Regions from separate parts of the Homo sapiens genome. Here region 1 is linked to region 2. The links come from fine-mapping of genetic effects on gene expression. Tissue or cell type: adrenal gland. Region 2 holds a variant in brackets; the other region holds the start of a gene. All regions are shown on one strand. Distances are from middle to middle.

Evidence for each region. PIP is the estimated chance that this variant, and not a neighbour inherited with it, causes the effect.
Region 1: SLC26A1 starts here. The variant in region 2 is fine-mapped to the expression of SLC26A1 in adrenal gland (GTEx, PIP above 0.99).

Annotation. Positions count from the first base shown.
Region 1 is chr4:992,169-994,769 of GRCh38, forward strand. It overlaps SLC26A1 (solute carrier family 26 member 1), which reads right to left and starts at 1,236. Exons shown (of 3, transcript NM_022042.4): 1 at 1,133-1,236. The region is part of intron 2 of IDUA (alpha-L-iduronidase); the gene reads left to right. RefSeq lists enhancers at 573-1,384, 1,385-2,196.
Region 2 is chr4:963,118-965,867 of GRCh38, forward strand. It overlaps DGKQ (diacylglycerol kinase theta), which reads right to left. Exons shown (of 23, transcript NM_001347.4): 14 at 2,374-2,412; 15 at 2,059-2,174; 16 at 22-173. Among named protein-coding and RNA genes, the nearest start is that of DGKQ, 9.1 kb to the right of the region's middle. RefSeq lists a silencer at 336-495. The variant G/C (reference allele first, on the strand shown) is at 1,185.

The DNA.
Region 1 (2,601 bases), 29 kb after region 2:
TGGACACAGGTGCAGGCAAGCCTGAGTCCAGCTGCTCCGTGTCCACCTCCCTGGCTCCCCAGGTTGGCAAACGGTCCTGCTGTCCACCCCATGCCCACACCAGAGCCCTCCCTCCCCCATCCAAACCATCGCCTGCTCTCCTGGAGACACCTCCACCCACCCCTCTGTCACCTGCCCTGTGGGTCCTGGGGCTGGCGGAAGTCTCAGGAAGAGGCCTCCTATGTCCCTGCCAAGCTTTGTGGGTACTGGGACCCCAAGTCTGCTGGGGGAGCAGCACTCAGACACTAGCCTAGCCCATCCGCCTGGACTTGGGACAGAATTCTGAGAATATGCCTGGACGGGGGCCCCATCAGGGCCAGCTGGGAGGGGAGGAGGGTGACTGGCGTCTGTCTCCCCTGCCCAGACAGTTCTGGGACGTGAGGCGCCCTTTTTCCCAGGCTGCACCAGCTCACTGTGGAACGGCCATGACACACTGTCCCGAGGCAGCACCGAGAGGGCCCAGCCCGCTGCACACAGTCACCCTGGGCCGGCAGAGCCGGAAGGGCACCTGACCTTTCCCTTGATCTCGGAAAACACCGTGGCGTTAGGGAGGCGGTGCTTAGAGGCCTGACTGGTCCCACGTGAGGCCTCGGGTCTGTCCTGTTTGCAGACTCCAATGTACTTTCACTTTAAACATTCTTCTCAGCGACGTTAGGCAAAGACTTTGCTCCCAGGACACCAGGTGCCCAGGACACCCTGGAGCCTGGGCTGAGCCTGCTGTTTGCACGCTGGCCCAGGGTGTGCGAGCTCCAGTCTCCTGGCGGGTGTGTTGGGGCAGTGAGCCCAGCCTGGTAGGTTGACACATGCAGGCTGGGCACAGCACCCCTGGGGCACAGAGCGGGGGTCCTGGCCCTCAGGCAACATTGCAAGAGTTGTGTCCCCTTCCCTGGAAGACCCCACCACACTGGGTCCCTGGATGCCCTGAAGCCCACCCCAAGCCCCTGGGGTCCAGGTGTGTGGAATGGGGACAGTAGGGCCACCTGCCTTGAGCCTGAGGGTGCCCCTAAGAAACCACGAGTCCAGGGCATTTCTGGCCTCGGCTCCCACGCCCCCCTCTGCTGCAGCTGAGATCTGGGCCCAGGATGGTTCTTACCTGAGGGAGTCCTCACAGGCGCGGAGGGCCCTGGGATGACGAGGGGCTGGCAAGACCACCGAGGACCGCAGGGCCCTCTGGCTCCCGCGAGCAGCGGGGAGAGTGGGGGTGGTGGCGCCAACCTGCAGGCAGTGGTCTGTGCCCTGGACTCTGTAGTTCAATTATTTACCTACAGATTGCTGAGTCATGGGTTTCTCCAGCCATGTTACCTGATCGGCTGATCCGGGAGTTGAACTGTAATCAGGGGCTTGTAGGAGTTAGAGCTGTGTGGGCCTCTGAGGAGCTCCCAGCCTCCCAGGAGCCGCTGCAGCTGTGGCTCTGCGGCCCTGCCGGGGGGGCTTAGGGACCAGCGGGAGGCGGGGGCTCAGGGGCTGAGCACAGGTAAACCTTCAGCTCTGGGGTCTGGGGTCGAGTGCAGCAGCCTTCAAACCCAGGCGGGGCTGAGGGAGGCTTGGTCTCCGTGTCCAGTCGCCGGACACCCTCCTGGTCCTGCAAGGAGCCAGCCTGGTCCAAGCTGGAGCAGGGCAGAGGCTGACAGCCGGCTCAGCCCAAGGCTGCCGGTGCGTGCATATGCGTGTGTGCTCGCGTAAGCCCTGTGTGTGGTGCTCACCGCCCAGGGCGAGGACTGCCGGGGTCAAGGTGCCGTGACTGGCCAGGAGTCCTGGTCTGACTGGACCCAGCACCGACCCACAGCGCCTGGTCACCCTCACGGCTCCTCTGCCCTCCCCTCTACCACAGACCAGGACCGGCAGTGCCTGCCTCATAGGGCTGGGGTGAAGATAAATGATTTTTTTAAGTGAACTAAATTAGGCCCACACGTGAAAATAAGGGTAAGCTGCTTTTTAAAAGGAATTATTAGCCAGGCACGATGGTTCACTCCTGTAATTCCAACACTTTGGGAGGCCTAGACAGGAGGATCGCTTAAGGCCAGCAGTTCAAGACCAGCCTGGTCAACATAGTGAGACGCCCCCCACCTTTTCTTTTTTTTTTTTTGAGGCGGAGTCTTGCTCTGTCACCCAGGCCGGAATGCAGTGGTGTGATCTCGGCTCACTGGAAGCTCTGCCTCCTGGGTTCACGCCATTCTCCTGCCTCAGCCTCCTGAGTAGCTGGGACTACAGGCGCCCGCCACCGCGCCCGGCTAATTTTTTTTTTTTTGAGACGGAGTTTCGCTCTGTTGCCCAGGCTGGAGTACAGTGGCATGATCTCGGCTCACTGCAAGCTCTGTCTCCCGGGTTCAAGTGATTCTCCTGCCTCAGCCTCCCGAGTAGCTGGGACTACAGGCACCCGCCACCACGCCCGGCTAATTTTTTGTATTTTTAGTAGAGACGGGGTTTCACCATGTTAGCCAGGATGGTCTTGATCTCCTGACCTCGTGATCCACCCACCTCGGCCTCCCAAAGTGCTGGGATTACAGGCTTGAGCCACTGCACCCGGCCGCCCCCTGCCCCCCAACCTTTAAAAAATTAAAA
Region 2 (2,750 bases):
CAGGGGTCCTGCTGGACTCACCCGGGAAGAGGACCTCCGTTGGTCAGGTCGAAGACCTGATGAGGGTTCAGTAGCTTCCGGAAGCTGCAGAGCAGGTCTCGGCCCTTGAGGCCTCCACTCTTGGGGTTCACGAACACAAGGAGGGGACAGCTGTCTGGGGGCAGCTTCGCGTGCTGACAGACAGGGGGCTGGGTTAGGATGGGGACCCAAGGTGGGGTGTCCCCACTGCTGGGGTTGCCAGGCAGTGCCCAGCCCCCAACCCTGAGCCCACCTGGCTTGGACCAGCCCCCTCCCCAGGAAGGCGTGGCCAGCACCCTCACATCTGAGGCCTCACACATGAGCTGCGTGGTCACCCCATCTCGCTGCTGGCCAGCAGGGCGGCACTGAGGACAGCCGGCTGGCTGCCTGGCACTCCCAGCACAAAGGCCTCAGACCTGCCCACTGAGCTGCGTGTGAACAGACCACACCCGCCTGGGCCATGCAGCGCGAGTCCAGGCTGGAAATCCACGTGGGACTCTGCGTGGCACTCTGTGCCAGCGAGACCAAGGCCTGTCCCCTGGGGGGCCTCTGGTGCACACCTTTGGAGGATGGCGGCTCCCAGGCCACCGCCCACCTACACAGCAGCCGAGAAAAGCTCTTAACTCACAGGGTGGCACGCGGCGTCCCTCGACCACAGGACAGAGTCCATCTCCCCACACACAACCCCAAGAAACAGTACCCAGGGATCTAGACACAGCGGGCTCAGGGCTGGGATCCCTACGACAGGAGGCTAGGGACCCTACGACAGGAGGCTGGGGCCCCCACAGCGGGGAAGGCTGGGCAACAGGAGACACACAGGCTGGGTGCAGACACAGGGTGGGCAGCGGCACAGGGGCCGGCCGTGGCTGGGGGCAAGGACACACTCGGGGCTTCGTGACCCACTTGGCAGGCAGAGCCGCCTGCGGTCACCACTTACCACTCACCCCAGGGCAGGCAGCTGACGGGAGAGAGAAAGCGCGTGTCGGCCCCAAACCTGGCTCTGCCCACAGAGCGAGTGGAGCTGGGGTGGGGGCTGCATCCTCGGGACAGTGGGGATGGCCACCCTGTCCTGAGCCAGGCAAGGCCGGGTGTAGGGGCACAGGAGGGAGGCATAGCAGGGAGCCACAGGCATCTCCCGTCCCAGCCACAGACAACTCATTCTGCTC[G/C]AGTTCTGCTTCGCCTGGACTGGGGTCACGATCAAGGGTCAAGGTTCAGGGGTAGAACAGCCATGGACACCTGGGGGGTCCTCATGGGACCCTTTGGGGGCTAGATGGGCTGAGGACGAGAGGCCAATGTGAAGGCACGGTGTGCAGCGTGGAGTCCCAGGCTCCAGCCCCTCCATGGGCCAGAACCCCGTTCCCCCCGGCCCTGCCCTGTCTCCACGGACCAGACCCCCGTTCCCCCCGGCCCTGCCCTGTCTCCATGTTCCAGATCCCCCTTTCCCCCAGCCCTGCCCTGTTGCCAGGTGCCCCCTCTTCTGGGCACTGTGGGTCTGAAGGGCAGCGTTCAAAGTTTGGGAGCTGCACTGACTGGCCTGGGGAGCTCCAGGCAGAGAGCAGAGGCCCTAAGGCCTCCCGGGCAGGGGGAGTGAGGCTGAGGCTGTACCGGGAGGGCCATGCCTGGGATCCTGACAGCTGGTCACAAACACGCTCTGGCCCTTGGCGAGGCAGCCGCAGCGGGGCCCGGCACATCCAGGAGCTGCGTCCTGTGGGCCTCCCTACTGGGTGGAGGCCTCAGGTGCAGCGTGGAAGCTGGGCCTGACCCCACGGTGCCCCACGGAGCTGGTATCACCTACTGGGCAGCCTCGGATGAGCGCTGACCCTCTGACCTCAGGCCCCTTGCTGTAAAACGGGCAACAGAGTCCTTCCTGCTGTTGTGAGGCACAAACAAGGTGGCACCTACAAGCCCCCAGTGAATTCAAGGAAGTGATGCCAGATGAAAACAGCGAGTCTGGCTGTGGGGCCTGTGCACCTGCAGACCCCGACCTCCCTCTGGCCACCCCCTGGGGTGTGTGAAGAGCCGGCTTGACCGCACACTCACCAGCAGGTCGGGGAGCACCAGGGCAGTGAGCAGCCGGCCCCGCACAGCCATGTCCTTCAGCAGCATGTACAGCCGCTCGGCCTCCGCAAAGCAGGCAACGTCCAACACTACCGCGCCTGCGGCAGGAGCCCAGGACTCAGGGGGAGCCTGTCCCATGGCCCCCACGGTGCCAGGGCAGGAACCAAACCAGGACGTTTCCCCAGCCCAGGGCTGCCCAAGGGAAAGGTCAGGTGCTACGTGAGGGCCAGGGCTGTCCCACTTCACCCCAGGAACACCCCTGGGCCTCATGTGACCACGTCCCTCAGGGCAGCTCACCTTGGGAGGAGTAGATGTGACTCACGGACACCACGGTGGCTGCAAAGGCAGGCTGTGGTCAGGGCGGTGGGAGGCGAAGGACACACAGCACTGGGGCCAGGGACAGCCCCTCCGCCTGTCCAGGGGTGACATCTCACCCCAAAGGCAGCCTCCCCAGGAAGTACCCCTGCCCCACTCCAGGAGCAGGACTCCCAGCTCCCTGGAGGTACAGGACCCCCCAGAGGGAGAGGGAGAGGCAGAGGCTGAGCACCGCAGGGAACGGCCACAGAGGGCGAGAGGCTCCAGAGCCTCTTGGAGGAAGAGACGTGGGCTGGACCCGGAGCTCAGGCCTTGGTGGCTCAAGGAGAGGCAGGAGCCGGCTCAGCACTGCAGCCCCA